4 separate regions of the Homo sapiens genome follow, and all the other regions are linked to region 1. The links come from fine-mapping of genetic effects on gene expression. A gene starts in region 1. Each other region holds a variant in brackets. All regions are shown on one strand. Distances are between the middles of the regions.

Region 1 (5,000 bases):
AACTGTGGGTGGAGGCTATGATGCCAGGAAAGGACTTACTCCTCCAGCTACTGGGAGTGCTGCCAGCAGAAAGCCCTTGGCTCAGCTGACATCTCCTAGGGGCAGTGCCTCAGCTGAAGAGAGCCACCTTGCCCAAGGTCGCTGAGGTGGCCTGCATGTAAAGACTGGTCCATGCTGGGGTATAAAGGCCCACCAGAACAACTCAGAACCCAGCCCCAACTCAGAACAACTCTGAAGCATCATCCCACCTTCAGAATCCTCCCTGCAGGGATGCCTGAGGCTTGGTCAATTTCTCCCTCTGCTCAAGCTTGCCTCCCTCCATTCCCTCCCTTTATTTCCTCCCACAAATGTTGACTACAAGAGCACTTCCTAAAAAGCCTCCCTCTGCCTGCTAAACACCATCTCAGAATCTGCTTCTAGGAGGACCCAACCTGTGCAGAAATTTTATGAGCAATTTGCCTGTCCATTAAAAAATACAGCATAGACTTTTTCCAGGTTAGCTGGAGATGGAGTTTTTTTGTATCAAAAAAAGAGAGCTAAACTGAGAAGAGAAGCAAAGGTAGAAGAATAAGGTTAGACTCTCCCTGTATAACTGAATTTGGGATTGGGAATGATATCTTGCTTCTCTATGAAATTTAGAAACTGTCTTTTGAAGTCTTCATCCAGTCACATCCAAGAGTGGTCCAGGAAGAAAAAGGAAAATAAGAATGAAAAAAAAACAAAAAACAAACCTTAAAATTGGATACTTCTTTGTGCCTTGCATTAAGCCTCTATGTTACTGCCCTTGTCCGTATAAGCAACTCTAGATAAAATCCTTTCTTAGACCATCTAATTTATCTCCCCGTGCCATTGTGAAAATCGGGCAGGAATTACTGCGGGAACCAGTGACTGAATGGGCAGTGGTGTCTCGCAGCTGTAACTCAGAGTTTACAAGGGAAGGATGAACAGCAGCCATCCTTCTAAAGGCATTCTTCCTCTCCTCCAGCACAGCTCAGTCTGTGCATGCCTCACCAAGGAGAATGAGGGAAGGCCTTGTTGACTGCCCAGCCCAGAGTGTGAGGAACAGCAGTTGACATGGGCGGCTGGACGGGATAGAAACCAGCATGAACATTTAGTGACACCTAAGGAAGAGGTGAAAATGGGGGAGAAAGCCAAGAACCATCAGACAGCTTCTTTCTGTTCTTGCCTTGGATCTTAGGGGAACGTATGTGTTCAAGGGTGCCTTCCTCCGCAGGGCCTCCCATCCCTTGGCACAAACTTCCAAACGATGAGTAGACATGGAATGGGCTTCTTCTGAAGACTGGGTCACCATCCAACTCAGCCTTCGGAGTAGGCGGTGGGGCTGGGGGAAGAGGACGGAACCATGAGGTCTCTCCATCACTTCCCGGGTGTGTTGAGAGGCAAGCAAATGCGGTGGGTGGGCCTGGGCTGTAGGGCCCCTGCCATTTCGGGAGGGGCCTCCTGGTGTTTAGCTCTGGGATGTGTGAAAATGTGTTGGTGAAAAGCGAGAGGCTTACACAGCCCTTCAGGGGAAGAGGGGCTGGGGCGCTGGGGGCGGCGTCGGGATGAGTGCAGAAGAGACGAGGCCTCTGGACAGCGGAGGAGGAGGGGAGGGCGCCGAGGCGCGGTGCCAGCTGCCGCGCACAGGGGCCCCGCGGCGGAGCCGAGCCGCGGGCACGCTCTGCCCTGTCGGGAGAGCTCCGGGAGCGGCGGGAGGGGCGGAGGGGCGCAGTGGGGCCCGGGCGGCTGCGGCCGCGGAGCCGGGGCACCTGAGGAGGAAGGAGGGTGGGAGCGAGGGAGGGAGGGGACGGGCGCAGACCGAAAGTGGGGAAAGAAGGTGCAGGCAGGCGGGCAGGCGGGCGGGCGCCCTGGCCCAGGGCCGCGGGTGCGGGAGCCCGGCGAGGTCGAGCTGGGCGGCGGCGGGGGCCGCGCCGAGGGAGGAGGGGAAGGCGGAGGCGCGGGGAGCGTGTTTGGGGCGCCGCGGCGGGGAGGGTGGCGGCCGCTGGTGCGCGCGGGGCGCTGTGTATGCGCGCTCCCCCGCTCGGGGAGGAAGATGGCCCAAAAGGGAAAGTTGGGGTGACGCGCGCGGTCCCCGGAGGCTCGGCGGGGGGCACCGCGGCCAGCCCGACGGAGCGGCGGACACACAGGCCGGGGGGCGCGCAGTCCGGGCGCCGCCGCGGCCGCCCCCTCACTGCAGGTGGCAGCGGGTGCGCTGGGTCCCGGCGGCCGCGGGCGCGGGCGGGCGCGCGGGGGAGCCCGGCCGAGGGATGGGCTGCGCCCCCAGCATCCATGTCTCGCAGAGCGGCGTGATCTACTGCCGGGACTCGGACGAGTCCAGCTCGCCCCGCCAGACCACCAGCGTGTCGCAGGGCCCGGCGGCACCCCTGCCCGGCCTCTTCGTCCAGACCGACGCCGCCGACGCCATCCCCCCGAGCCGCGCGTCGGGACCCCCCAGCGTAGCCCGCGTCCGCAGGGCCCGCACCGAGCTGGGCAGCGGTAGCAGCGCGGGTTCCGCAGCCCCCGCCGCGACCACCAGCAGGGGCCGGAGGCGCCACTGCTGCAGCAGCGCCGAGGCCGAGACTCAGACCTGCTACACCAGCGTGAAGGTAAATGCCCCGCGCTGGCACACGCCGTGGGGGCCGTCCGCCCCGTCGGCGGGGCTCGCACGGGTAGGGGGCTCCGGCGGAGTTGGGTGACCGTGAGGCGGTTGGTTTGGAGAGGTTGTCACTAAGGAGGAGTTTACTTTTCATTTGTGGAGATGATGGGAGCCCAGGAAATGTGGTCAGAAAAAGGCCCCTGGAGGGGTCCTGGAAGCGTCCTTAGCTGGTCCTGGGGGACTGGGCGGGGAAGGGAGCGCAGAAGGAAGCAGGTGGGCTGGCCTGTTCCTCCTTGAGGGCAGGAAGGCTGTGGCTTGGTTTATGCAGGAAGAGGGGTGGGGACCATTGAGAGCATTCGGTGGCCAGTCCTGTTGAATGAAATCTGAGCACTGAGCTGGATTTGCGTGCCTTGTAGGTGACTGGTGCAGTTGCAGCACCAGGATAGATAGTGCCCCATATTCCGATTTTTACCTGGGATTACCAGCCAGGCTGGAGTCTCAGCACAGGAACCGAGCGTAGGGATTTGTGAATGAATGAGTGTTCGTGTTTTAAGAGATGTGGGAACGGAGCAGAGTGGAACCTGTTGTTTGTCACTGTAACGTTTCTCTGGGTTGGCTGCATCCTAGACAGAATTGAGAGAACCGGGCCATGAGTTCGGAGTGTCAGCAGAGCCACCGTGAGGGGACGTGGTTTCCAGTGCAGTACAGCTGTCTGAGGATGATTCTGCACATACAACTGATCTTCCCAGAGAGTGGGATTTTGAGGAAGTGGAAAAAATTGTTTAGATGGTTAAAGCAGTCGCTAAATATTTATTTCTTAAAGACAGAAGAAAAATAATTATTTAAATAGTGTCCTCCCGTATGTTCTCAAAGTACCGTTAAATCCAAGAGGCTTTTCATTGTGTAAATCTGGGCACTGGGTCTTTTTTCCTTTCAGCAAACAAGATAACAATGGCATATCCTATTGTACAGAGAGAAAAAAATACTCCTAATGTCAGATAGAATCACAGCCTTTACCTGGTCAATAGGTTACCAAGAACCATTCCATGGATTATTTGTCAAAGACACATTTGTATTTTTAATAGTTAAAAACTTGGTCTTCATTGGATGAAGGCAGCCCACAGTGGAGGAGTGAGGAGAAGGATAACATGTTTTGGCTTCAATCTGGAAGTCCAAAAGTTTTTTAATGAACCTATTTTTTTTTTAACAGCATCTGATTGTTTAACATGAAGCTTGACTGATGTTTGCTTGTGGTTGCAGTGTTTCTCTGGCAGTAATCATAATCACCATTATAGTAAAAACATCGTTTATTGAGCACCTACTATGTGCCAGGAGTAAGCTTTCTCTCCTAACTATTGAATGTTAACAGTGTGATCTTAGCATAGCATGTCTGAAGACTAGAGTCTAGGATTTATGACAGTACAAACCTACCAGTTGCCCATTCGTTACAGAGGCATGTGCTGAACGCTATACTTTGCTTTTGTCAAGCTCTCTCTCTCTCCCCCTCCCTGTTCACACAAAGTTAGCTTTAGGAGCAATTTTCAGGGATGAAAATGTTAAATTTGGTGAAAATATTAAGTTGGGATATTATCAGTAAAGACCATCCTTTTGCCTGACGGTTGAAGACCTGAAGCAGTAGTTCAAAATTGTGACAGCTCATGAACTTTGTGATACTTTTTTTGGTTGCTCCAGAGAAATTGTGAATTTTTGTTTTCTAGAATATCTATAATCTCAGTTTAGTACTTGGCAACTCTAGCTACTCCATGTTTGTTCAGTAGAAGAAAGAATACTGAATGAACCCATTCTGTACATTTTTAATACTTCCCTCAAGAGGCTGCTTAGAGACCAAATGAAGTAAAAACTGAAGGGACAATGAGCCCCAATTATTAGCAGCTTGTATAAACTTGTATTAATCTCATTGCTACTTGGCTTAAGTATTAAAAGGCTTGACCTGGGTAGGAGTTTAACTCATTTTGCTTTATCAAGAAGATTCCCAAATAAGAGCTTAATTCACTCTAACCCATTACTGGGAATGTTGGAAATGAAACCCCTGGTTCATTGACTTAACACTACTTTGCATTGTGTGGATCTCAGAAAGTATATATTTGAAGTGAAATTTGAGACCAGAGTTATTTATGCAAATCTTACAGAATTATTATCACAGAACTGCCCTAATATATTTAATAGTATCCTTTTAGGCCTGTGACTCGGTGTTGTATTGTCTTTTCTCAATCGTAAAGTTCACATGTTCTGTGCCCTTTTGTTGCTGAGATAATTTTATAAAAACTTTACATTCATTTTTTTGTAGACTAAGCATTCTTTTTTTGCCGTAAGAGTTTGAGATAGTTGCTAGGCACGTGGTGGTGCCCCACCCCTTTCCAAAGCACACAGGTGGAAAAATAAA
Region 2 (8,390 bases), 72 kb before region 1:
CTAATGAACAGCCTTTGCCTCAGACACTAACACTCCTTTGTTCTGGCTGGACACAGTGTCACAGTTTCTCAGAACTGTGCTGCAGCCTGAAGCTTTTCCTAGGCAGGACTTTCTTTCCTCTCTTCTTTCCCAGGTAGCAGACCTGCATTATATTCTTCTGCTCTGCATTCCTTTATCCTTCACAGGCATTTCTCCCAATAAATCTCTTGACTACCTAATCTCATCTTGACATCTAAGAGGATCCAAAATGACATAAATGCCACAGCATTTCTAATTGAAATAATAATATGACTTAGTATGGTTTGAATTCATTGTGCTGGACACTTGGGAGACCCTTTCAGTTGAGGGACTCAAGACTTTCAGCCAGAGGAATTTTTTTTTTTTTTTTTTTTTTTGAGACGGAGTCTCGCTGTGGCCCAGGCTGGAGTGCAGTGGCACGATCTCGGCTCATTGCAGCCTCCGCCTCCAGAGTTCAAGCAGTTCTCCTGCCTCAGTCTCCTGAGTAGCTGGGATTACAGGCACGCGCCACCATGCCCAGCTAATTTTTGTATTTTTAGTAGAGATGGGATTTCACCATGTTGGTTGGGCTGGTCTCGAGCTCCTGACCTCGTGATCCACCCGCCTCGGCCTCCCAAAGTGTTGGGATTACAGGCATGAGCCACCGTGCCTGGCTGGAATTTTTTTTTTTTTAATAGAGACAGGATCTTGCTATATTGAAAAGGCTGGTCTTGAACTTCTGGCCTGCAACGGTCCCTCACCCACACCTCAGCTGCTCAAAGTGCTGGGATAACAGGCATGAGCATTGGCAAATTTGAGGTGCCTGGCCTCAAAATTCTCTTTCTGGAACTCCTATTAGTTGGATGTTGACCCCCAGGATCAAGCTTCTAATTTTCCTATCTTTTTTCCTCTATTGCCCACATCTTTGTCTTTCAGTTCTGTTTTCTAAAAGACTTCCTCAACTTTATCATTCAACTTTTCTAGCAACTTTTAAAACTTCAGCTTTCTTACTCTTAATTTCCAAGAGCTCTTTCTTATTTTCCAGTTACTTGTTTTCTATATTATTCTGTTTTCCTTTCATGAATGCACTTTCTCTTCTTATCTAAGGATGTTATTTCTAGTTTTGTCTTTGAAGTGTTTATTTATTCCCTACCTTGTCTCTACTTCCTCTAAGTAGCCTTTTCTGTTTTGTTTTTGTTTTGTTTTGTTTGGTTTGACTTTTGTGTCTGTCTTTCATGTAAGGAAACTTTTTCAAATGTCTACTGATTTTTGACTATCTGTTCTTATTTGAGAGTGAAGCACTAGCCAGCTAAATGACAAGTCTGTGGGCTTGGGAGGGTTTTAAAAGCACTTATCTAAACATCTAGTAATACAGGTCCAAGGACATTTATGAAGAAAAGGAGACTGAATATTTAAAATAGGTACCATCCTTGGAAATTTTGAGTCTGGGGGTGACCTCTCCTCAGCCTCCTCTTGTCCTGAAAACTGTCACCCTCCTTGGTTCCACTGCAGTGTGTATGGCAGTAAGGTGGCTTTGTCAATGGGAGAAACTCAGATGTCAATATCTGTTAGAATTCTCTCTGGAGAATTGATGTCTGGAGAGAAGAATCTTCCGGTCTCCCTCTTGAAGGGTATAAGCCTAGCTGCTGGCATTTTTGCAGCTGAGATGAGGAGAACATTTGCATCATTCAATATTTTTACTCTGGATTCTAACCCCCATCATATACTAGAAACTTCTGGTTCAGTTTTTCCTCCAAAAATATTTGTAAGGAAGGGTTTTCATCACTTTTTTTGGGCTATGGGTGAGGACTATATGTTTATTAAATAGATTTTGAACAAATCTCTCTATTTTTATCAGTTGCCTCACCCCAACTAGTGCTCAAAGCCTGGGCACTAGTTTGAGAGTTCGTACAGGACAAAATCAGTTTGCTTCTTGGTGATTTCATTCTCTGCAGGTTCTTACATTTCACCTTTCTCTATTCCGCTAAGGCCAGAGTCCTCTAGTTGCTTTTTGTCATCATGTATTGTGATGTGCGCTTCTGTTTCTCATCTTTTTGCTGACAGGGGAAAGGAGAGATAAGGTCTTTTCTCCATCATCTTAAGCTGAAAGTCTTCCAGGTTATTTTCATGTTAAAAGAGAGCATGCCTAATTCATAGCTAGCTTGTGCAGAACACCCCAGGAGAGACTGGCCTAGCAGGGCTGGGAGGACCCACAGGGGTGAACAAATGCAGCTGGATTGAAAGACAAGAGCAGAAAGCATGATTGAGCTGGGAAAGAGCTCTTTTCCAAATGGCCTATTCAAAAATGGGATGGGAACTGCAAGTGGGTTGAGGTGCACTCAGTCAACTAGAGAAGAAGAAACAGATATGAGATGCTCTGGCCAAGGCAGAGTCAAGGTGGACGCAGTTTATTTGAACTCCTGTCCAAGCTATTCTAGTGGCCATGTCAGATCCGCCTTGATGCCATCTGTTCTCAGTGTCTTCACGCAAAGTAAGAAGCACAAGCAGTGGAATTCCAGTGTCAGCAAGTGGCCCTCTGTGTACCCTGCAGAAAAAGGCTCCCTACGGAAACATAAAGTCACACCTTTGCTCCAGCTAAGAGCTCCACTTTGCCCTCATATTTTGTGGATCTTGTCCAACTTGAGCATTTTTCACCTGAAGGATTAAAATAGGGTGTGGTTTATGTGGGGGTAAAATGGCTACAGATTGATCATCATTAAAGCCAAGGAGAGACTTTTTTTCATTAAAGCAAAGGGGAGACTTCAAAGTCTGAGAAAGGCAAGGAGGACACCAAATCTACAGACTAACCATAGCAAAAGCACAGACATGCTGCCCACCCAGAAGCACTGGAAATAAGCATGGTTGCCAAGGTAGCTGGAAAGACCCTTTCTATTAGGTTGGTACAAAAGTAATTGCGGTTTTTGCTATTAAAAGTAATACTTAAAAAAAGTAATAACTTCCCTACTCCCCTTGGACTTCCCATGATAATAGTGACACAATTTTTAAAACTATTTATCTGAACATCTAGTAATACAAGTCCAAGGGCATTTATGAGGAGAAGGAGACAAGTGAATATTTGAAATAGATATTGTCCTTGGAAATTTGGAGTCCGGGGGGTGGCTTCTCTTCAGCCCCCTCCCATCCTGAAGCCACATGGATGGTTTCTTGTCCCCACCCTTCCCTACACCTTCCCTCTGGCCCTGCTTTTAGGTCTTAAATGGATTAAATTTTTGGGACAGGTGACACTTTTCCCTCTTGTCCCTCAGGGTGGTTTTTCTGTTGTTTTTGTTTTTGCTTTCTCCCATAGCTTGTATATTTCAAGTATAAAAATTATGTGAGGATGATCCGCCTGGAAGCCCTTTCCAGAGCTGAGTATTTCCAGAACAGAAGTAAGCAGGCTTCTTTCATTCTAAAGTCTACTGTGATTTTTAACAGGGTTTCCTTATTTCCTATCAGTTTGTTTATCAAAGACTCCAGCATGGAGTTTATTTAGGAAAAACAAATGACTTTTTAGGTTCCACTACTTGGCTGAGAGGAATTCATGTTTTAGGAAGCCCCAGATGGGAAAGCCTTGTTGTTTTCTTCTTTGAAATGATCTGCATTTTCAATTTTTTTCTACTTGCTTTTATTTCCCACAATCCAGACTCGCCTTTTCTACTTTGCCTATCCAACGATCTAAAACACTATGTAAAGATACAGATAAGTCTTGTTGATTCTTTTAAACATTAGCCATAATCCAAAAAAGAAAAAAGTCTTAGGACTATAGTCCTAACAGCACAAATTTTAACCCTGACCAAAGCAATTTCTATTTTAATTTAGGTTATTTGAGCTGAATTTGCAGGGCGAAGTGGTCATGGGTAAAACTAACCATTAGTTACCTCAAGCTTGCAACAATGGCAAAGAAATGTCAAGCCATTAATTAAAATGACTCCCACGGCCCCTCCTGGAATCAAGTCGTTCCCAGTTAGTCAACATCTGTCACAATCTGTGTAAAAGGGCAGAACACGCTATACCCCAGCACATTAAGTTAGAACACAGAGGTCTTGGGTCACTGCCAGAGTAACTTGTCTGTGGCATGAT[G/A]GTTGCTAAGCGAAACAGAGCATTCTCTGCAGGGAGCCCCCCTGGACTGAGGCTCCTTCTCTTCCCCTTTATTTCTTGCTAGGCCAGCAGGAGCCAGGCCGTGGCCTGCTGACTGCATCTGCCAGATGACTACCAATGTGTGAGTAAACCCATTCTCAAGCCCAAGAGAACCTCTCAGCTGAACCAGGCCCAAGTTGCTCACCCACTGAACTGCCAGTTAAATAAATGGTGGTTGTTTTAATCCACTAAATGCTGGGATGGTTTGTTATACAGCAGTAGGTATCAATACAGTGTACTTGTCAATCTAGGAATTCCTGTCTTGTCAAATCTGAGAAAATTCTCGGTCACTGTCACTTCAAATATTACTTCTTTCCCATTTTCTATTCACTCATTCCAAAACTCCTAGTGGATGTCTTTTCTGTCATTTCTGGTTCTGTCTTTTGTGATCTTAAACTTTCATTCATTGTTTTTCCATTTTTACTTCCGTGTTACATTTTGAGTCATTTCCTTAGTTCCAGTTTGCTTATTTTCTATTCAACCATTAAATATTTCTATTTAGTTTTAAGTTTCAGTGGCTATAAGTTTCATTTATAAAAGAACTATTTGGTTATTTTCTAAATCTGCATTTTGTTTTCACATGTTTTTCTGTTTTTTAATTTGTATTTTCCTTTGCCCTTGTAAATCATTTAAAATGTACTTATTTTATAATCATCTGTGGCTTGATCTGTTTCTTTACTTCTTGGGCATTACTTTTTCTGTTAATTTCATGATCTGACCCTCAAGGTGGTTTCCTCCTATGGTTTGTAATTTTTATTATGAGCTTATTTTCAGCAGGGATTTCTCCCCTCTGGTGAAGATCTGTATGCCTTGGGTAATGTGATTGTCACTTCACTATGCCTGCAAGTTTGCTTCTGATGGCATCCTACCGATATCACCAACTCTCAACCAGCTCTAATGTTTCTTGGTATTTCTGCCCACAGTGAAAATTCAGAGCTCACTTCAATGCATGGCATGGGCTTGGCTTCAAGTTTTTCTGTATGACCTTTTTTTAAATTTATTTTTATTTTTTTAAACCTATAGCCCAAGGACACGGGAGCTTTTTTTCCTGATTTGTTTTTGCCAACACTGTAGCCCTCAGGAACTCAGATTTTGCAAAGTGCTCAATTCCAGTTGCCTTCCTTACTCACACCAGAGACAATATTTTATTGGCCTGCAAGGGTGTTAAAATCCCAAGGGTGTTAAAATCCCCAGATCTCCAGGGCCTATCATTGGTCCAAACCCTGCAGAGGCTACAGTGACATTAGCCCCTACTTACTGCCCAGCCTCTGAGCTCCCTCTTTGTTTCTAGAATCTGGGGATTTCCCTTTCTCTCTGTCTAGAGATTGTTGTGCTGGACCCCTATTGACTCCAATAGGAATGGCACCAGGTTCAAGAGGCCAAAGAAGAGACCTGGAGCCAGCAAATGAGACATAAGATTTGATTTGGGGGAACTTATGTACAGGGATGGACTAGTGGCAGTGGGCTGGATAAGAGAACCACAACTGCTTTCCAAAAGCCTGCAGTTTATACAGCACCTTCACTCAGCACCCTCTCTCCAGCAACATCCACATGGCAACCCCCATTTCCTAGGCTAAGTTATTGCTGTCAGATGTGTTTGCCATACAGGCTGCTGTACAGAGTATGCTTAAGTTATTGCTGTCAGGTACATCCACCGTATATATACATACACATGTACGTATATATACACATACATGTATGTGTGTGTGTACATATTTGTACTCATATACATGTGTATATATAGATATATAAAAAAATTTTCTCTGTGTTTCCCTGTAACAGTAACTGAAGAGGGAATTCTTCTATATAATCTCAGTCCACTATATTGCTAGAAGTTCTCTTCTCTATACTTTTGAGATATGAATTTTACCTTTCAATATTCTAAAATTATAACAAAGCTATAAATTTTGGGAATTGGTATATGTTTGTTTTTAGAAAAATTGTTAGAAACATAATAGCAATGGGATGCTTTAACATGCTACCTTGAACCTTTACCAAATCAAGAGAGTAAAAATTAAGCACAAAAGAGGGATCTAATACTATAAACAAGGTAGATTTAATACATATGTATCAAACATAGTAACCTAGAAGCAATGAATATACATTTTCTGGTGCTCATTTAACATTAACGACCTTCAAGAAGGCTTTAAACAGCAACAGATAGAGTTGAGTTGCTTTGGCCTATTGCTAAAGGCATCTAACCCACCTGCTTTGTGGGAGGTCATCTGCTTTGAATCTCAACTGTATCCAAGTCAGATTTAAACTCTATGGGGCATTGGAATTGTCCTCTGAATCATCTCCAACTCTGCAGGATACATAATAGCACCACTTTGTTGTTCTGGAATTTAAAGACAGGGTCTTATTCAACTTTGGCTATTTTTGTGCAGTCCATGGATCCTTGAAACAGGACATTCTACTTTACCAATATCTGACTCATAGAAGACCTATCTATATACCTACCAGGTGGCTACTACCCAGTAACTCCTACCGCCAATACCATGACATTTGTTTTGAAAACCTTAGCTTATTGCAATATTGCTTATAATTATGAAACCTTAGAAACAACTGAAATGCCTATCAAAGAGAGAATTTATAAATAAAATGTAACATATTCACGTTCTATTTTGATATGAATTACCATAATATTCTATTAGGATATGAATTGTTATAATGGCCATTAGAAGGAATGGATTGTTCCCATATATAACATAATATATCCATGTATAAAGTATCTATATAATACCAACACGTAACATAATGTAAAGAAAAGAGATTCATGGAATAAAATGTGCATGTCATTGATATAAATTTTAAAAACACAGAAATAATACATTATATTAAGACTATATATGTATGTAAAATTATTACCAGTGGACTGATTTGGATATACACTAAATTCATGCTACTTGCTTCTGGAGGTTGCAGTAAAGAACTGGAACTGTGTCTGGGGATGTCACTTTTATCTGTTTTATTTAGTTCATTTTTTATAAACAATCCTTGAGGCAAATATGAGCTGTTAATAAATGCCAATTAGTCTTTTTGCATATTGGTTGCATTTCTCTTTTTTACAACTTTATTGAGTATAATTGATGTACACTAAACTGCACTTATTTAAAGTACACAATGTGATAAGTTTTGACAAGTGTACGTACCCATGGAATCTTTACCACAATCAACATTTGTTTCCTCCCACAGTTTTCTCAGGCCCTTTTGTAATCCATTTTTTGCTTAAACAATTTGTTTTCTATCACTATAGATTAGTTTTATATAAATGGCATCCTACAGTATGTACTCTTCTGGTGGCAGGGGGTTGTCTATCTGCCTTAATTCAGTAATTTCTCAAGATAAAAACAATTTTAAAAATCTTGGAACTGCTGAAAACAATCTGGGGCATATAATCTGTGATTCAGAAAGGGGGAAAGGAGGGAATCTGTGGAAAGCAGGTACCATTTGGGATAGATTCCCAAGCAGGAAGAATAAGCACACTTATTATAATGGCTTCCACATTCCCCAAATTATTCCCTTCATGTAATCTTTTTTTTTTTTTAATTTTGTGGCAGTGCCTGAAACTGCACAGATGAGAGTCTTTTGGATAAGTAAGCTACTCATTTAAAAACAGACGCTTTGCTCAGAATTTACTCAATGGCAGCTGGTTCAAGGAAAGCTTGTCATCCTAACCCTCTCCCAAACTTAGCTTCATTAAGGAAATGTGTGTTTGGATCATAAGAGAGAGGAGCTAAGATGTATTGAGGCATGGAGAGTTGGGGACTGTGGGAAGATCTGAGTGAGGCAGCACCCTAGGAGACTTCGGGGAACCCTAGGATATCGGGAACCAGAACCCAAGGAGGTGGGGAGGGCCAGAAAAGAATGTGAGAAGACACCCAAAGTTAATAGCCATCCCTTTCCTAATGTTCCCTATGTGCGGCTCCCTGATGAGAAACTGGAGGAAGAGATTCCCATCATCTTGCGTCTTCTATTCTCAACATCGGAGAACTCCTGTTCTTGAAATTCAACCTGATATCATTATTGCTCTGTGGATTAAACTGGCTCTTGTTTGCTAGGCTCAGAGTCCAAATACAAGATATAACATTGTTTTTATGGAAAAATGTGCCCAAATACCAAATAATTGATCTACAAAGAAAGTTTTGAAATGTAACCTGTTATACGCCAGGGATTTCTTACATGTGTAGATCTTTGTAACAATGAGCTATGTTATAATGGAAATATTTTCACAGATATAATTCTTAATCTATAGC
Region 3 (8,390 bases), 440 kb after region 1:
TCCTGCCTCAGTCTCTCCAGTAGCTTGGAAAACAGGCTTGGCCACCATGCCCAGCCCAGCCTTCTTTATTGTTCTCTGTCTTCCTTAACATATTCTTCCATCTTGCAGCCTAAGATGGCTGCTCCAGCTCCTGCCATCACCTCTGCATGTTGGGTAGCTGGAAACGGAGATGAAGAGGAAGGCTCATTCCTTTCTTTTAAGGGCATGGCTCAAAAATGCTTCTATTACTTCCTCTCACAATGCATGGAACAGAGTTTAGTCACATGGCCATACCTACCTAAATAGAAATTGAGTGCTATAGTCTTTACCTGAGCTGGTTAAAACATGAGAGAGAAGGCTCCATGGTTTTCCTGCTCTGGGAGGGGACAAAAATGCTATCTTCAATATGGCCCTAATTTATGACTTGACCCCATCTTCAGTCTTCTCTAATACTTGTACTGAAAAAAAAAATGGTGTGTGTTTGCCAGAGGAGGGATGGAAGGTGGAAAGTGGAGGCAGAGGGGCCAGGTAGTAGCCTAATGTAATAATCCAAGGGGAAAATGATGGCTGCTTGGACCAGAATGAGAGCAGTGGAGGAGGTGATAAGTGGTTGGAATCTAGAAGTATTTCCTAGGAAGCCTAGGATGTGCTTCTAGATGTGGGGTATGAGAAAGAAGAGCCGAGGATAATGCCACTCATTGATTATCTATTCATCCATTGACTGTTTTTTTTTTTAGAGACAGGGGTCTCGCTATGTTGCCCAGGCTAGCCTTGAGCTCCTGAGTACGTGGGATCCTTCCACCTCAGTGTCCTGAGTAGCCAGGATTGCAGTTGCTCACCACCACACCTGGCTCTAAATTGTTATTGAGCACTGGCTGTGAGCAAGGCACTGAGCTAGGGCCTGTGGATACAATGGGTATAGTCTTGCTTTTATAATTGACAAAAATAGCCAGCAGAGAAGTAAACACAAGTATGATGTATGTAATAAAAAGCAAATCCCAGAGGCTTTGAGATAATAACTCAGAGGAAATGAACCTAGTCTAGGGGTCTGGGAGGTGACGTCTAAGCTGAGACATGAAGTGTGCATAGGGAGTGGTCAGGAAATTGAGGTGAGCTGGGGCCATAAGGGGAAACATGTTCCTGTAGAGGAATTCGCTTTAAGCCCTACTTCCCTCCATGCCTTCATGTTGTCTACTTGGGATAGAATGAAACCCTGGACTTAGTTTATGCTTAGTTCATGCTATCTCTCTGAAGAGAAAATGCTTTTTGAAGTTCAATTCAAGTTAATTAAATTCAATCAACATTTGTAGGTTCTGGGCCAGGTTCCCAGCCCAAAGACTAAATAGCCCATGGTACCATTTAACTGAGAGAAGATAATAAAATTGAAATCATTGAATTTTAGGAAAGGCAGAGTTGTTCTCTATGAGGTCAAGCTAAAACTCAAAGGATTTCAACATAGGAAGATGTGCTGTGGTGTGACATGATCAAAATCTATACAATTCAGGATGGCAACAAAAATCTATACAATTCAGTATGGTGACGAGAGTGTAAATATAGATTAGGAGACAACCTACAACCTTCGTTTAAAGCATTTAAAAAGTCCTTTATACATGGGAAATTAAACGTGAGGAATGCATTCCCTCCAAGGGGTGGTAAAATTACTATATTTGTTGGGATGAGAGTTCAGTGGCTATAAAAGAAACAACAGCAGCAGTAACAAAAACCAACAGTGGCTTAAACAAGATAGAAGTTTCTCTCTCACTTAATAGTCTAAAGGCAAGAACTCCAGGACTGTCATGGTTGGTCTATGGTGTCAGCGACCCCGCCTCTTCTATCTTGTTCCTATCTGCTAGGATGTCCCCCTTGTCCATGTTATCCAGGATGGCTCACCACCATGTCATATTCTAGCCAGCAGGAAGAGAAAGGAGAAAGACAAGAGTATCCTTCTTCCTTTGAAAGCACAACCCTAAAGATGCACACATCACTTCTCAATCCCATTGTCAAGAACTTGGTCAAATGACCACACCCAGCTACAGGGAAGGTTGGGAAATCGTATTTTTACACTAGATATTCGTATTCCATGTGAGAACAGAGAGTTATATTAGTGAGAGACAGAAAGAGAGAACAGACACTAGAGTCTCTAGCAGTCTTTGTGGACTAAGGGGTTCTTTTTCTCACTCAGAACTTCCAAAGTTAGTGCTTGAAAGAAAGTTTTCAGGAGTGTGTGTGTGGAGGTACAAGGGTTGGCAGACACCCCTGAATCAGAGGCCTCACCTCCTTCTTTGGATTCTTTCACGTGACTTCCTGCTGGCACCCAGGTGCTGCTGCCCCCTTAAATATTTTGGCTGAAGTAAAGATCAAAACCTTTCCCTGGGCTTCCCTTAGCCAAGACTGCATGGAGTTTTCAAAGAGTTTAATATAGATAGATGTAGAGAAGACAAAGAAGAGCATAAACATAGAAAATACAAGAAACGTGTAACCTTCCCAGCTTACAAAGTCCAAGATCTCTATCAGCTCTTCCTTTGTCTAGCCTGGAAGGTTAAGCTCAACTTCTCCAGCACCTTGACCTCAGCCTTCATTCCCTGGGTCTTAGCTTGTCTCTGCATGGAGGATGATTGCTTTAATATTCACCTTCCAGGAACAACCTGCAGTAGTAGTTCAGGTGAGGTATTGTCCTTATACAGGATGAGAAGGAGCTGCCTGCCCTGGACCTTGGCTTTAAACAGCCCCATTTGGACCATCTCCAGCTGCAGCCCGTCAAGAGCCTGCTCTTCCCCCTGTAGACTACCTGGGGCCCCAGAATTCCTTGCCCAACAGTCCTGCTCCTGCTTCCAGAACTTCTGTGGGTCTCTCCCACATCTGCCCATCTGTCATGTGCACACTCCCAGGCCCAAGAGGCAGCTGCTTGTGATGAGATGTGGGGGGAGCTTGGACAACTGGGCTGGGCTGACCACTTGTGCATGTGAGAGGCCTCTTGCTGCCCTGGATGCAGCTGGTGGGCAGGAAGAGAAGGTGCAAACCTGGAGCTAGGGGCTGGGACTCCAAACATTATAAATTTGAACTTGAACTTCTAGGTTGTTATGAAAATATAGTTGTTAAGGTAAGAAGACAGGACATATTTCACTGAACAGTTTGTTAGCTTAATTTATAGTTTTTAAATATTTGGACATATAGTATGTGGGCCTCTGTTTGTACTCTTGCTCCAGGTCCTGCATATGTTAGGGTAGGCTTGGGCTGTCTTGCCACATATGTTGTTATCTTTAAAAGTTACAGCATGTGAGATTCCTCTTCTGCATCCTACTCTTCTAATTGCCAACGTGCAGCCAAGTCAGATTATGAAGGAAGGCCCTCCCTGCTCAGATGGAAGGCTGCTACCAGTATGCACACACACTAGCCTTTTGTTTTTTCTCGGACTTGCCATTCTCATTCCAACCTCTGGCCATGGTACCTTCTGCTTTGTTCCTTCTTCCTGAAGGATACATCTCTGGACTTTCACATGATTACAGCTCTCTCTTTATTCAGGTCTCTGTAAAATTTTATCTCTGTAGAGATGCCCTTCCTGACATCTCCTCTCCAAACTTAAAAGAGTCCCCCAAAAGAGTCAAGTAGATCCATAATTCGTCATCCTTTATCTTGCTTTATTTTTTCAGCACAGCACTCATCACTATCTGAAAAAGTGTGCTATGTGCTTATTTGTTTATTACCTCTTTCCCTGAGCAGAATGCAAGCCCTGTAATGGCTGAACCTTGGTCTTCATATCTTAGTACCCCTAGAGCCTTGTACAGTTTCTGATGCATAATAATGTGCAAAAAAATTTTGTTGAATGAATAAAAGGAAGAATGAATGAATGATCCAGTTGTTCAGTAGCAGTTGGGAATCAGATTTCCCAATTCAAACTAATCTTAGTGAGCAATCAGAATTATGAAGAAGAGTTTATTATTATTATTGAAATTTATGCTACCCATTCAGGATGGGGTCAACCTAGCCAATTCCATGTGTGTAGAGCAGTCCAGAATGAGAGTGGACAACTGCCTGACGATGCAATGTTAAAACGGCCCTGTTGGTAAAGAGCCCAGTGTGACTTTTGCAAATGAATGTAGGCTCTCCCTCTCCAGCTCTGTGCTCAAGGCTAAGCCCTGGAAAGTGAGCCCAATGCAGAGACTGCCTTGTTAGTCATTGGTGGTGAGGGACTCCATTTTTGGACAGGAGACTGGGCTGAAATTTGATGCACATAAAATAGAGGATGCTGAAGTGAAGGGTCATATACCATCCATGCCAGAAGAGTCCTTGGGAATTATTGCCTA[A/C]AATTTGCATCTTTAAAGATGAGACACAGAGGTCCCAGGGGACCAAGGTGGCACGACAACTAATAGAAATCGAAAGTGGGGCTTGGGTCTCCCAACCCCCAGAACTGTTTTCACCCTCCTGGATTAACCGGATTAGTGTCATAGAAACTGCCAGGATTAGTATGAAATTTCTATCAAACACTAAGCGCAGTGACACTTATTAGAAGAATCCCTACTAGCAGAGCTTCCCTAAATGATCTGTAAAATGGGGATAATCATAGTACCTGCCTCCTGAGGTTGAGGTGAATCTTCCTGTGGAGCACTTACAGTGCTGTGTCAATGATAGCTGCTGCTATGTTTCTTATTAACCCTTCCCATTCCCACCCATTCATGGACACATTTCCCATACCCTTGCTGAGAAGTTGTATTTGGCTACAGTTATTATGGAAACAAAAGGATTGGCCCCTGGAGCCCTGTTCTAACCCAGAATAGACGTATGGGGCGGTCCACAGAGCATAAAGTTACAACCAGTCCTGATGCCAATGGTCCTACAAGCAGCTCCCACAAGTCTGTAAGTGGCCAAGCAGCATGAGCACCCTACTATCCTGGGCAGGTGCCCGGAAACCTCGGAGGTGCTACTTGGCATGAAGCAACTGCTCCTTGCAGGGCAGGGATGTGCCACAGCTGCAGCCCTTTGAGATTCTCACAGTCCCGTTTTCAATTTGGAGCCTAGAGCTGAAGAGATAAATTGAGAATATTGATCAGCTCATCAGCTCACAATTAAGATGTTCTTTTTCCCCCTTCCGAAACTTGGTGTATGGCTGTGGTAAAGGGAGGAATGGCTGTCCCTCATAGCGACTGCACACAGGCTCTCAAGCCACTTCCAGGTTACCACACCATAATATTTTTGTTGTCATTCATTCTTATCTATCCACAGCCATCAAATATCACCTCCTTTCATGAGGGGATGGTGCAAAGTGGGCAGACCTTCAAGTGAGAAAGAAACAGGGATAAGCGGCTAGGAAAGGGCGTCCCACCAACACTTGTAGATCGGAACTGTCAAAGAAGTCCAAGTCCTCTGTCTTTCTGTGGAGCCACAAGATCTGGAGAAAGGGAAGTGTGTTCATCTCAGGAAAAGATTGAGGACTCAACTTGAGAAAAAGAAAAAGGGGGTAGTGGTGGAATAAAGAAGTAGGCAGCATCAAATCTGTTCAGGCCACATCTTGGCAGAATACTATGCCTGCCCTCTTTGCTTCCAGAATTTCAAGGCCAGGTGACATAGCATCATAAAACTTTAAACCTTATTGCTGTTAGAAAATAAACATGTGTGTGCACATGCACACACACATACACACACACAGACACACAAATACTACTGTCTAAGCTCACAAGCACTGGCATTACCTGACCCCTGTTTATCTCTCTACCTCCACTTCTGATTGGTAGGACACACACCAGCCACCTTAGCCTCCTGAAAATTCATAAAATAATTTTTCCTATGATTCAAGGCCCTTACACATGATTTTCCCTTTCCACTCAGTGCTCTTCCCCTATTCTTCACATAGCAGGCTTCTTCTTGGCTTTCAGACCTCAGTTGAAATCTCGCCTTCCAGGCAAGGCCTTTCTCATCTTTCTCCCACCAGGCCCTTTCCTCTCTGGGGTTCCCTTCTATCCCAGGACCCCACTATCACCCCCATAGCCCTCTCCCAAGGTTATTATTGAGTTAAGTGTCTGCTTGCTTATTGTCTCTCCCATTTCAAAATGATTTCTCTGAGGGAAGGACCATATCTGTTTTCTGCCCAGAATACAATAGGTACTCAAGTGTCCACCCAGCTGCTCCAATCAAAAGGATTAAAGTCACCCTCAAATCATCACTTGTTACCACCCAGACATACAATTCAATGGCAAACCTTCTTGGCTTTATTTTCAAAATATATCCCAAGATCTCCCCACCTTCACGGTCACAGGTTCAAGCCACTATATAGGGTACCTGGATTACTGCAACAGCTGAATAGCCTCCTCCTCTTGTCCCCACCTCTGTCCTTGCACCTCTCCATGCTACCCCCAGCACAGCAGTTGGAATGGAAGTCCAATTATGTCACTCCCCTGGGCAAACCCTCCACCAAAAATGGACAAATGAGATCACTTCAAGTTAAAAAGTTTCTGCACAGCAAAGGATACAATCAACAAAGGCAGGGGACAACCCACAGAATGGGAGAAAACATTTGGAAACTATCCATCTGACAAGGAATTAATAAGCAGAATATATGGAGCTCAAACAACTCTATAGGGAAAAGTCTAATCTGATCAAAAAATGGGCAAAATATTCGAATAGACATTTCTCAAAAGAAGACATACAAATGGCAAACAGGCATATGAAAAGCTGCTTGACATTACTGATCATCATAGAGATGCAAATCAAAACTATAATGAGGTATCATCTCACTCTAGTTAAAATGGCTTTTATCCAAAAGACAGGCAATAACAAATGCTGGCTAGGATATGGAGAAATGGGAATCCTTGTATGTTGGTGGGAATGTAAATTAGTGTGGGGAACAGTTTGGAGGTTCTTCATAATGTTGACATGATATACCCCACTGATTGATTTGCATATGTTGAACCATCCTTGCATCCCTAGGATAAATCCCACTTGGTCATGATGAATGATCTTTTCTATTTATTTACTAATTTATTTAATGTATTTATTTTGAGACAGAGTCTCACTCTGTAATCCAGGCTGGAGTGCAGTGGTGCAATCTCAGCTCACTGCAACCTCTGCCTCCTGGGTTTAAGCAATTCTCCTGCCTCAGCCTCCTGAGTAGCTGGGAATCCAGGTGCACACCACCACGCCCAGCCAATTTTTTATTTTTATTTTTAGTAGAAACAGGGTTTCACCATGTTGGCCAGGCTGGTTTCAAACTCCTGGCCTCAAGTGATCTGCCTGCCTTGGCCTCTCAGAGTGCTGGGATTACAGGCATGAGCCACCACTCCTGGTGAGTGATCTTTTTAATGTGTTGTTGAATTTGGTTTGCTAGTATTTTACTGAGGATTTTTGCATCAATGTTCATCAGGGATATTAGCCTAGAGTTTTCTTTTTTGGATGTATCTTTGTCTGGTTTTGGTATCAAGGCAATACCGACCTCGTAGTATATGTTTGTAAGTATTCCCTCATCTATTTTTCACATTAGTTTGAGTAGGATTGGTATTTACCACTTCTTTCAATGTTTGGTAAAATTCAGCAGTGAAGCCATCAGATCCCAGACTTTCCTTTGCTAGGAGACTTTTTATCATGGCTTTGATCTGGATACTTGTTTTTGGTCTGTACAGATTTTGGATTTCTTCATGCTTCAATCTTGGTAGGTTGTAGGTGACTAAGAATTTATTCAGTTCTTCTACATTTTTCAATGTATTAGCAGATAGTTGCTCATAGTAGCCTCTAGTGATCCTTTGAATTTCTGCAGTATCAGTTGTAATGTCTCCTTTTTCATCTCTGATTTTATTTATTTAGGTCTTCTCTCTTTTTTCCTTAATTAGTCTGACTAAAAGTTTGTTGATTTTGTTTAACTTTTTAAAAAACCAACACTTTGTTTCATTTGATCTTTTGTGTTGTTTTCTTCATTTCAATTTCATTTATTTCTGCTCCGATTTTTATTATTTCTTTTCTTCTACTAATTTTTGGTTTGCTTTGCTCTTGCTTTTCTAGTTCTTTAAATGCATTGTTACATTGTTTATTTGGAGACTTTCTACTTTTTTGATGAAGGTGCTTATAGCTATAAACTTTCCTCTTAGTACTGCTTTCACTTTATCCCATAGGTTTTAAGAAATTTTAAAATTTTCCTCTTAATTTCTTTATTGATCTACTGGTCATTAAGGAGTATATTATTTAATTTCTATGTGTTTGTATAATCTCCAAAATTCCTCTTGTTAAGGATTTTTAGTTTTTTCCATTGTGGTCAGAGAAGATATTTGATATAACTTCAATTTTTTTGAATGTTTTAAGACTTGTTTTGTGGCCTAACGTATGGTCTATCCTTGAGAATGATTCATGTGCTGAGGAGAGAAGAATGTGTATTCTGCAGCCATTGGGTTAAATTTTCTGTAAATAGATTTAGGTCCATTTGGTCTATA
Region 4 (5,000 bases), 370 kb after region 1:
TTGCTGAGGATGGAGGGAATAGAAATTCATCTAAATACTTCAAAGATTATTTTGGCAATATTAAATAAAAGTGGCCATAATGTTATACAACTGAGAAATTTTACTGCTAGATGTTTACCCTAGAGAAACTTTACACATGTGCACTAGGAAACATATACAAGAATATATATTGCAGCACTGTTCCTAGTGAAAGAATAAGAAAGCTGGGAGAAGCTCACCTGTGATCAGAACAAATATCAAACACTGACCTCAGAAACTACAGGTGCTCCTCAACTTATTATGGAGTTATGTCCCAATAAACCCATTGTAAGTTGAAACTATCATAAGTCAAAAGTGCATTTAATATACCTAACATCATAGCTTAGCCTAGCCTAACTTAAAAATGCTCACTCAGAACACTTACCTTAGCCTATAGCTAGGCAAAATCATTTAACACGAAGCCTATTTTATAATAAAGTGTTGACTATCTCATGTAATTTATTGAGCACTGTCCCGAAAATGAAAAACAGAATGGCTCACTGCCACTACCCAGCATTGCAAGAGTATCATATTGCAAATCGCTAACCCGAAAAAAGATCAAAATTCAAAATGCAAAGTACAGTTTCTACTAAATGCATATTACTTTTGCACTATTGTAATGTCAAAAAAATCATAAGTCGAACCATCACAATTTGGATATATTTGCAGAGCAATACGTACCCCCAGGGATTTGGAGAAAACAATAGAGACATTAGCCATAATGTCATAGAGTTTAACAGGCTTAACACTGTAGGGAGCTAGGTGGTAGAGGGTAGGATTCACTAAAATATACCAGTGAGTCAGAAAACCAGCAAACAAACAAACAACAGCAAGACCTGGGGGAGGGCAGTTTAGTATCCATAGTACTACATATGTTATTTAAAATGTCCATTTTCCAAGTAAAAAATGCAAGTCATACAAAGAAACAGGAAAATATGGCCCATACATCTGATAGCAAGCAACAGAAACTGCTAGTGAGAGCAACCAGATGGTGGATTTAATGGAAAAGACTTCAAAGTAGCCATTATACACATGTTAACAGGACTAAAGGAAAGCATAATTAAAGAAGTAAAGGGCCAGGCATGGTGGCTCACGCCTGTAATCCCAGTACTTTGGGAGGCCAGGAGTTCAAGACAAGCCTGGCCAACATGGCAAAACCCTGTCTCTACTAAAAATACAAAAATTAGCCCGGCCTGGTGGTGGGAGCCTGTAATCCCAGCTACTCAGGAGGCTGAGGCAGGAGAATCACTTGAACCCAGGAGGCAGAGGTTGCAGTAAGCCAAGATCGCACCACTGCACTCTAGTCTGAGTGACAAGAGCAAAACTCCATCTCAAAAAAAAAAAAAAAAAAAAAGAAGTAAAGAAAGGTATGATCATAGTGTCTCCTCAAATAGATAATATCAATAAAGAGATAGAAACTATAAAAAAGAGTCAAACAAAAATTCTGAAATTAAAAAGTATAATAAAAGAAAATTTTAAAATTCACTACAGAGGTTCCATAATAGATTTGAACTGGCAGACAAAAAAACAGTGAACTTGAAGGTAAATCAACTGAGATTATGTAAGCCAAAGAAAGATAGAAAAAGGAATGAAGAAAAATGAGCAGAGCCTCAGAGAAATGTGGGGCTTGACTAAGCTTGCCCAACATGTGTAATGGGAGTAGCAGAAGTAGAGAAGAAAGACAAAGGAAAAGAAAAAATATTAGAAGAAGCAATGGCTGAAGCCTTCTCAAATTTATTGAAAAACATTAACCTACATACCCAAGAAGTACAATGATTCCAAGTAGGATAAATTCAAAGAGATCTGTAAATAGACACATCACACTAAAAATGCCAAAATCAAAGACCAGGAGAAAACTTTGAAAGTAGAAAAAGAAAAATGACTCATCATTTACAAGTGATTAACAGCAAACTACACAACAAAACTCAATAAGATTAACAGCAAACTATGAAACAAAAGCAACGGAGACCATAAGATAGTAGAACAACATGTTCAAAGTGCTAAAAAAAACCACCCTGTCAAACAAGAATCCTATATACAGCAAAAGCTATCTTTCAAAAAAGAAGTTATAATAATGACTTTTCCAGAAAACAGAAACTGAGAAAATTTGTTACTAGCAGATCTTCCATACAAGAAATACTAAAGTTCTACATGCTGAAAGCAAGTGATCCCAGATGGTAATTCAAACACATGCACTCACACACGTTGTAAAGTTAATTATGTAATCAGAAAAGAAGTATAACTGCATATTTTCCCCTTTCTTATCTTCACTGATTTAAAAATTAATTGTATAAAATAAGATGTATGTAATGTGTTGTTGGGCCTATAACATAT[G/T]GAAATATAATATATGTGTAATATATTTGCCAATGGCAGCAAAAAAAATGTGAGTAGAAGTTAGGCTATATTGGGCTAAGGAAATGACCACAAATTGATGATTGTAACAATGTATTATTAGGTTTGTGACATCAGTAGCTATAATATGTAGAACAATAATGCTACAAAAATAGAAGAAAAGGAATAGAGCTATATAAGAGTAACATTGATAGATAGATAGATTAGATAGATAGACATTATTGAAATTAAACGAGTATAAATCTGAAGTTTATTCTGATAAGTAAATGTGTATATGGTGTATTAGTTTGTTCTCACACTGCTGATAAAGACATACCCGAGACTGGGTAATTTATAAGGAAAAGAGGTTTAATTGACTCACAGTTCAGTATGGCTGGAGAGGCCTCAGAAAATTTACAATCATGGCAGAAGGCATCTCTTCACAGGATGGCAGGAGAAAGAATGAGTGCTGAGAGAAAGGGAAAGCCCCTTATAAAACCATCAGATTTCATACGAACTCACTCACTATCTCAAGAACAGCATGGGAGAAACTGCCCCCATGATTCAATTATCTCCACCTGGTCCTGCCCTTGACACGTAGGCATTATTACAATTCAAGGTGAGATTTGGGTGGGGACACAGAGCCAAACCAAATCATATGGTAAATCCAAGAGCAACCTCAAAAAATTACAAGAAAATATAGTGAAAAAATCATGAAAGAAATGAAAATACTGCCTTAGAAAAATACGCTTAATGCAAAAGAAAGCAGTACAAAAGAAATGGAAAAAAAATATATAAAAAATAAAAAGTAGGCTGGGCACGGTGGTTCATGCGTGTAATCACAGCACTTTGGGAGGCCAAGGTGGGCAGATCACGAGGTCAGGAGATCAAGACCATCCTGGCTAACATCGTGAAACCTCATCTCTACTAAAAATACAAAAAAATTAGCCAGGCGTGGTGGTGGGCACCTGTATTCCCAGCTACTTGGGAGGCTGAGGCAGGAGAATGGCCTGAACTTGGGAGGCGAAGCTTGCAGTGAGCCGAGATTGCACTACTGCACTCCAGCCTGGGTGACAGAGCAAGACTCCGTCTCAAAAATAAATAAATAAATAATAAAATAAAATAAAAATAAAAAGTAAAATGGCAGATGAAAACTCAACTATAGCAGTAATAATATTAAACATAAATGGATTAAACAATCCAATCAAAAGGATTGTCAGACTGGATAAAAAATATGATCTACAGGAGACACACTTTAGATTCAAATATAGAAATAGATTGAAAGTAAAAAGGTAAAAATTATGTATTATGCAAACAGCAATCACTTAAAAACTGAATAACAGATACTACTAATAACAGACAAAAGAGACCTTAAAACAAAAAATATTATCAGAAATAATGAGGGACATTTTATAATGATAAAAGGTCAATCTACCATGAAGATATAATTATAGGCATATATGCTTCTGAAATGGAGCACCAAGGTGCATAAAGCAAAAACTGACAGAAATGAAGGGAGAAACAGATAATTCAACAATTATAACTGGAGGTTTCAATATCCCACTTTTAATAATGGATAGAACAACTAGACAGAAAATCAACAAGAAGACAGAAGACTTGAGAAACTCTATAAACCAACTACACATAACAGACTTCTAGAGAACACTTCACCCAACAATAACAGTATACATTCTTCTCAAGTGGATGTGGAGGATTCTTCAGTAGACCATATGTTAGGCCACAAAATGAATCTCAGTAAATTTAAAAAGATAGAAATAATACAGTGTATGTTCTCCAACCACAATGGGTTGAAATTAGAAATCAATAGTGGGAAAAAATGGGAAAACTCACAAATACATGGAAATAAAACATACTCCTAAATAACCCAAGACTTAAAGAAGAAATCAAAAAGGAAATCATGAAATACTTTCAGATGAATGAAAAGAAAGACTTCATACCAAAATTTATGGGATGCAGCTAAAGCAGTGCTTAGAAGGAAATACATAGCTGCAAAAGCCCACATTAAAGAAGAAAGGTCTCAAATCAATAACCTAACCTAACACCTTAGGATACTGGAAAAAGAAAAGCAAACTAAGCCTGAAGCAAAAGAAGAAAATAAGTAATAAAATTAGAGGAAAGATAAATGAAACAATTTTTTTAATTAGAGAAAAAATCAATGAAATCAAAAGCCAGTTATTTGATAAGATCAACAAAATTGACAAACCTTTAGCTAGATTAATGGAGAGTGAAGGGAGGACTCAACTTACTAGAATCAGACATGAAAGAGGGAACATTATTACCAAACTTACAGAAGTAAAAAGAATTATCAAAGAATATTATGAACAATTATATGCCAATAGATTACATAACTTAGATGAAATGGACAAAATTCCTAAAAGACACAAATTACCAACTCTGGCTCAGCAAGAAAGTAGACAATATGCATAGATATATAACAAGTTAACAAGTGCAGAGTACGCATGCGCCAACTTCCTCTTTTTCCGGCTGGAACCATGGAGGGTGTAGAAGAGAAGAAGAAGGAGGTTCCTGCTGTGCCAGAAACCCTTAAGAAAAAGCGAAGGAATTTCGTAGAGCTGAAGATCAAGCGCCTGAGAAAGAAGTTTGCCCAAAAGATGCTTCGAAAGGCAAGG

Alleles and levels. Alleles are on the strand shown, and positions count from the first base shown. SD is a standard deviation of normalised expression in the study named. Not every link is listed here.
For the expression in spinal cord of the gene that starts at base 2,022 in region 1, allele G in region 2 goes with a higher level than allele A (moderate effect, 0.42 SD a copy in GTEx).

Evidence for each region.
Region 2: its variant is fine-mapped to the expression of PDE8B in spinal cord (GTEx, PIP 0.97).
Region 3: its variant is fine-mapped to the expression of PDE8B in liver (GTEx, PIP 0.99).
Region 4: its variant is fine-mapped to the expression of PDE8B in tibial nerve (GTEx, PIP above 0.99).

What each region holds. Positions count from the first base shown.
Region 1 is chr5:77,208,659-77,213,658 of GRCh38, forward strand. PDE8B (phosphodiesterase 8B) reads left to right here and starts at 2,022. Exons shown (of 22, transcript NM_003719.5): 1 at 2,022-2,606. The coding sequence starts at 2,268.
Region 2 is chr5:77,135,102-77,143,491 of GRCh38, forward strand. The region is part of intron 2 of ZBED3-AS1 (ZBED3 antisense RNA 1); the gene reads left to right. It also overlaps a transcript of PDE8B not described here. Among named protein-coding and RNA genes, the nearest start is that of ZBED3, 52 kb to the left of the region's middle. The variant G/A (reference allele first, on the strand shown) is at 4,078.
Region 3 is chr5:77,648,150-77,656,539 of GRCh38, forward strand. No RefSeq gene overlaps it. Among named protein-coding and RNA genes, the nearest start is that of OTP, 14 kb to the left of the region's middle. The variant A/C (reference allele first, on the strand shown) is at 4,284.
Region 4 is chr5:77,577,514-77,582,513 of GRCh38, forward strand. It overlaps a transcript of WDR41 not described here and the pseudogene RPL7P23. Among named protein-coding and RNA genes, the nearest start is that of OTP-AS1, 50 kb to the right of the region's middle. The variant G/T (reference allele first, on the strand shown) is at 2,353.